Linked DNA regions of Homo sapiens: region 2 is linked to region 1. The links come from fine-mapping of genetic effects on plasma protein levels. A gene starts in region 1. The other region holds a variant in brackets. All regions are shown on one strand. Distances are from middle to middle.

Evidence for each region. PIP is the chance, under the fine-mapping model, that this variant and not a neighbour inherited with it causes the effect. Sun 2018 read protein levels with aptamers (SomaScan).
Region 2: its variant is fine-mapped to the plasma level of the SEMA3E protein (Sun 2018, PIP 0.95).

What each region holds. Positions count from the first base shown.
Region 1 is chr7:83,647,795-83,650,717 of GRCh38, forward strand. SEMA3E (semaphorin 3E) reads right to left here and starts at 1,345. Exons shown (of 17, transcript NM_012431.3): 1 at 634-1,345. The coding sequence starts at 748.
Region 2 is chr7:83,659,121-83,662,043 of GRCh38, forward strand. No RefSeq gene overlaps it. Among named protein-coding and RNA genes, the nearest start is that of SEMA3E, 11 kb to the left of the region's middle. The variant G/A (reference allele first, on the strand shown) is at 1,255.

The DNA of each region.
Region 1 (2,923 bases):
GCATTGTCATAAACTATTTTCCTTTGCCACACATGAAAAAATTCTAATAATCAATTCAACTGGAAAACTAATTTATATTAGTTGTTAATCATTTTAATTACATGATGATGACAGTTATGGGTAGGGCATCATTTTTCTCCTCGGGATTTTTATTTTCTCCTCTTACCTCCATTATGGAAACAAAACAAAACAAAAACAAAAAGAACAAATTGCACCCCTATTTCTATAGCCCTTTCCCAGCATCCTTGTTTCTCATATGCATAAACTGATATTTAAATATCTACTGTTAACTTGGTGGATTCAGCCTCTCAAGGCTATTTTCAACCTGCTTCCTCCCTTCCTGTGTTCCGCGGGCTAGTGAGTGAACTCCTTATTGATAAAATCCAATGTTTACAGACAAAAATAACATCTCTAAGTTGACATGTGATTTTGCACTGTTTTCAGATGAGGTGAGTATGACACATTAATCAGAGGTACTTAGAATTTTAGGTCAGTTTTGCAATAAATTTTTCAGGTGCATTTTAAAGGTCTTTGAAGACCATAAGCCTATGTTAATGTTAAACGACTTTTTTTTTCTTTTTTCTTTTTCTTTTTTTTTTTTTTTAAACAAAAGGATCTGGAAAGGTAACCTACCTTTATGTGACAGGCGTAACCGGGGGTGGGTAGTATCAGCTGTATGACCTCCTGTCCAAAGCTCCAGTAAGTAACCCCACAGGAGCAAGGTGATAATGTGCCCCGCGGATGCCATGCTGCCGTGTTCACCGTCCAAGCCCTCGCTCCTCACTTTAAGGAGGGTCTGAGTTTTACTTAGGACTTCCCTCCAGGGGCAGCGTGCGAGAGGCTTTGTCAGAAATCGAACGCGTTGTCATCAGAAAGCACAGTTCCGAAGTGCCATTTGTCAGGCTGTATTTGGCTATGTAAAACCTTTCTTTCCTCGGGACAGTTGTTTATAAGCCGGGAGCAAGAGGACATTCCAAAGAGTGAGTCTTCAGAGCCATGTCCTGTCTAGAGCGCTCTTCAGCAACTACGCCGGTAGATTCAGGAAGAAGCTGTATTTTTCAGTCACTTGGGCAAAGCTGTTCATTCAGAAAAAAAAAAAAAAAAGAGAGAAAAAAACAAAACCGAGCACACGCACTCCCTTCTCCCGTGGAGGTCCTCTCTTCGGGCTCCTGGAAGCCTCTCAGAAGTCAGCCTCTTGCACTGACTTGCCAAACTGCTAGTTTTAATTCACCTTTCACCTTGCTAATTAAAAACAAGAAGTGCCATTCCCTCTAGGAGTCGCAGGATCCACCCAGCAGGGATGCAGTCTGTCAGTGGCTGTTTACAGGAAAGTTCAGGCAGGGTTGAGCAGCGTACTTGCTGTTTCTAGGAAGTATTTCTGGTCCACGTGCCTCGCTCCCATCCTCCCTCCCAGTCATAACCAGCCCCACGTTACTCAGCAGCAGGAGAGAAGTCCACATTTTGATGGGGGAAATGGGGAGTTCGGGAGGGGTGATGACATAGACTGATTATTTAAGAATAGGTGACAGACAAGGATGTGGCATCAGAAAGCGCTTTTAAATTCTTACCAAGATAAATTGACCTAAGTTGAATAAATCCAACTTCTTTTGAAAATAATCTATTTGTAACCATCCAGAATCCAAATTCTGTTTTTCACTGTTGCCATAAGGTTTTTTTCAAAATTAAGTCTTTTTCTATTGCTTATATCTTAGGGATGTTATTTTTAAACTCTTTTAAGAAAAGTGTGTTTCAAGAGCCTGAAAAAAAAAAGTTCATCTGTGACTGTCTCATAAATTTGATAGAAATGATAAATTATTTACTTAAGCAAATTGGTCAAATGAAATTAAAGGCAAATCCTTTGTCCTAAAGCAATTCCTAAATTTTACTTCAAATTTAGGAATGTTGAAGTAATTTCCCCCAGGTAAGGTAACTGGCAAAGTTGAGATTCACCACCCAAGGGATTTCTATAAAGCAGGTATTAGAAAACTTAGGATGTGCAATACCTTAGGATTCAACTGCTATGGACTTCCAGAGTTGATTTTCCAAGGCACTGTGTTTGTGTAAATAAGCTTAACACAATAGGTCAACTTTACAATCTACCTTCAATCAATCTCAAAAACTAAGCCAAACACTCAGGAGCTGTTGGCATGGAAATGAATGGTATTATGTTAAGATACCAATAAACTTGAATAGATATTTGATTTGATAGTGGAGAGTTAAATGGTAAACACTGATCTCAACTATGATAACTTTTTCTTATTCTGTATTTTAAATGCTAATAGTTAAAAACTTTTTGAGAATTATGTTTTAAAATCACGAAACTATAACAAAAAGATAACATGTGTCACCCTGATATTTTTGCATTATATAGAAGCATATGTACAGCCAGGCATTCTCTACCCATTTTTCTAATCATGAGATGTTCTTGTACAAGCAGAGTATATTTAGCAAAATGTAAATGTCACTGGACATTATAAATAATTAGATTTCCAAGGTCTACAAAAGATAGCAAACTCTAAACATTATTTAACAGTAAAATGACATGAAGTTATTTAGAGACTTTTAACCTGGAATGCTTGCATATTTTAAAAGCCAGTCTGATGAGCTACAGACCTAAAGGTTGCTCTAAATGTGATACATTGTACCTTCAAAATTCTCTTTTGCTTTCTTCTAGGATGGAAACAAATGACAAAATAAATAGCAGCTCTTATATGTGTTATCTAATAGTAGGATTATAGGAAAAGTAAATGTGGTGCCTACACCTTTTATTGCAAATTCATGGCTACTCTCACATAGCTGAAATTCTACTTAAGATTGCATAGTGCCTGTCCTAACTCTACTATAGAACTGAGACAATGTGAGACATTACAATCATTTCATTAGTACACAAAATATGCACCTCTAAAGTGTTGACAAGAGAATA
Region 2 (2,923 bases), 11 kb after region 1:
CTTTCCACTAAATTACAGATTTTATATCCACTTGCCTTCCAGATATCTCCACTTGCATGTTTAATAAGCATCTGTACCTTAATATGTTCTGGTTTCTAACCTGCCCTTTATTCCCTCCATCTATAAACCTACTTCCACCCTCTAAATAAATGAACACATCTAGGTCCCTTCCCACAAATGCTCTTCTGCTCCATGTCAATTAGGATAAAAATAAAATCCTTATAGTTGTCTAGGAAGTCTTTCTTGATGCGGACTCCTACTATATCTTTGACCTTATCTATCATTTTCTTTCTCCCTCACCCCATTCAAGACACATTGAGTCCCTTGATAATTCTCAACCTAGGTAAGCGTTCTCCCACTTCAGGGCCTTTGTGCATGCTGTTTTCTCTGGCTAGAAAGCTCATCCCTCAGAAATACATGTTTTACTCGTAGTAACTCTAAATTTTTATTGGAAGTCAAAAAGTTAAGAAAGTACAATTACTAAGAAAATAAATGCTGAATATAATTAATTGTAATGTATAATGCTAAACACTAATTTCAACTATCTACAAGTATCTGTAATAATGATTTTAGCTGGAAAGAATTTTTTAAACCAATATTTAGAGTAAAAGAGCATATGTTGAATCCTGGTTTAATACTATGTGGCTCAGTGATGCCCATGATCAAAATATTTAACTTTTTCTGAGCATTATTTTCTATCACCTGTATCATAGATGTAGTAATACTAACTTAAGTAGAATACATATTTTGAAACCCATATGATTATACTCAAACTTTTTATATACAAATATTTCTATATTTTTATATGTTCTTCATGTTAATGTTAGCATATTCAAATATTTAAATAGGTTTTCCTGTTTCAATTTTTGGGTTATGAAAAGGTCTGCATGAAAGTTTATAAATATGTTAGTTATTTTATTTGTACCATTTGAACAGTGGGTTATTTTTTTTTCCTTAAAAACTACTTCCTGGCTGGGCACAGTGGCTCATGCCTGTAATCCCAGGACTTTGGGAGGCTGAGGCGGGCAGATCACAAGGTCAACAGATCGAGATCATCCTGGCCAACATGGTGAAACCCCGTCTCTACTAAAAATACAAAAATTAGCTGGGCATGGTGGTGTGCGCCTGTAGTCTCAGCTACTCAGGAGGCTGAGGTAGGAGAATCACTTGAACCCGAGAGGTGGAGGTTGCAGTGAATGGAGATCGTGCCACTGCACTCCAGCCTGGCAACAGAGCGAGACTCCGAAAAAAAAA[G/A]AAAAAAAAAAACAAACCTGCCTCCTGTAGGTACTTATGACAATAACATAAAAAGCATAATTGATTTTTCAGGATTGAAATAGCTTAGCTCTTGTATTATTCCTAATGTTTCATATTTTCAAAAGCATTGCTGTAAATACAGAATGTCTCCTGTGTACTGCTGAAGAGATGTAAGTAGCAACCTAATACCTCTTTATTCTCATTAATGAAATGAACGACCTCTGCAGAAAGACAGTATACTCTTTCAGAATAAAAGAAAGTTATTATCTCATCAGAACCTTTAGATTACTTACCTTTTGACTTTCTTTCAATCCATCAGCCTCTCTTATCTTTACTTTCTCCTTATCCTGCTGAGAGTCTAACATTTCCCTATTTCAATAATGCTATTGCCAATAGCCTAAACTACTTAGTCCCTCTCTCTTATTCTTCAACCATCAGGCAAAACACAAGCTCTGGATTAACATGATTATCTAATGACATGGTTTAGCTTTGTGTCCCCACCCAATTCTCATCTTAAATTTTAATCCCATAATTAATACCCAAGACTAGGTAATCTGTAAAGAAAAGAGGTTTAATTGACTCACAGTTCTGCATGGCTGGGGAGACCACAGGAAACTTACAATCAGGATGGAGGGCACATCCCCACAGGTAATGAGGAGGACCCGGTGGGAGGTCACTGAATCATGGGGGTGATTCCCCCATACTGTTCTCATGATAGTGAGTGAGTTCTCACAAGATATGATGGTTTTATAAGCATCTGGCACTCCTTTTCTCTCCTGCCACCTTGTGAAGAAGTGCCTTCCATCCTGCTTGTAAGTTTCCTGTGGTCTCCCCAGCCATGCAGAACTGTGAGTCAATTAAACCTCTTTTCTTTATAGATTACCTCGTCTTGGGTATTTCTTCATAGCAGTGTGAGAACGGACTAATACCTCTGCTTTCTCTATGTCTAGACAGAAAGTAGCTAGGCATTGTCTCAAAAAGTCATGACAAGGAGGATGGATATTACACTGAAGGTATAAACAGTAACTCACTTGGGCTCTCTTCACTGTCTAGCAAATTTAGGATCTTTAGCTATTAAACTCATAGTCTCACTCTTCTTGGTACTTTTTCCCAAAACATTCCTTCTCAAATGTGTAAGCTACCCTTCCGCAAAATCTTTCCTCATTTATAGCATATAACCTAGATGTCTATTTCATAGAAAAAGCTAAAAACGTAACTGCATATATGCTTTTGTTTCCTGCACACATTTCTGTTGATTAATTGTTGATTAAGGAGGGATGTGGTATCCCTCCTTCATCTGCCATTGATATTTCTAGCTATAGGTTGAACTCTATTTCTTCCCCCTTCTTAGGAACTGTACATTACAAATTGTTTGTCCCCTTTCTCTTTCAATTGCTCTTTTTAAAGTAGATGTATAAATGTGCTCAAGTCTTCATATTAAAAAGAAAAACAGCAATCTTCCTTCAAACTCCTTTTCTCTATACTATCTATCTCCTCGACAGCCTCTTCCCTGTTACAGCAAAGCATTCTTTAACGTCCCCTTTACTCTCTTTTTTCTATACTTCATCTTTCTTTTCAAATTGTTATTGTCAGGCTGCTGATCCCATCACATCACTACATAGGTGAGTGATGCTTTCATGTCACAAATCACTGCTCATTATTCAGCTCT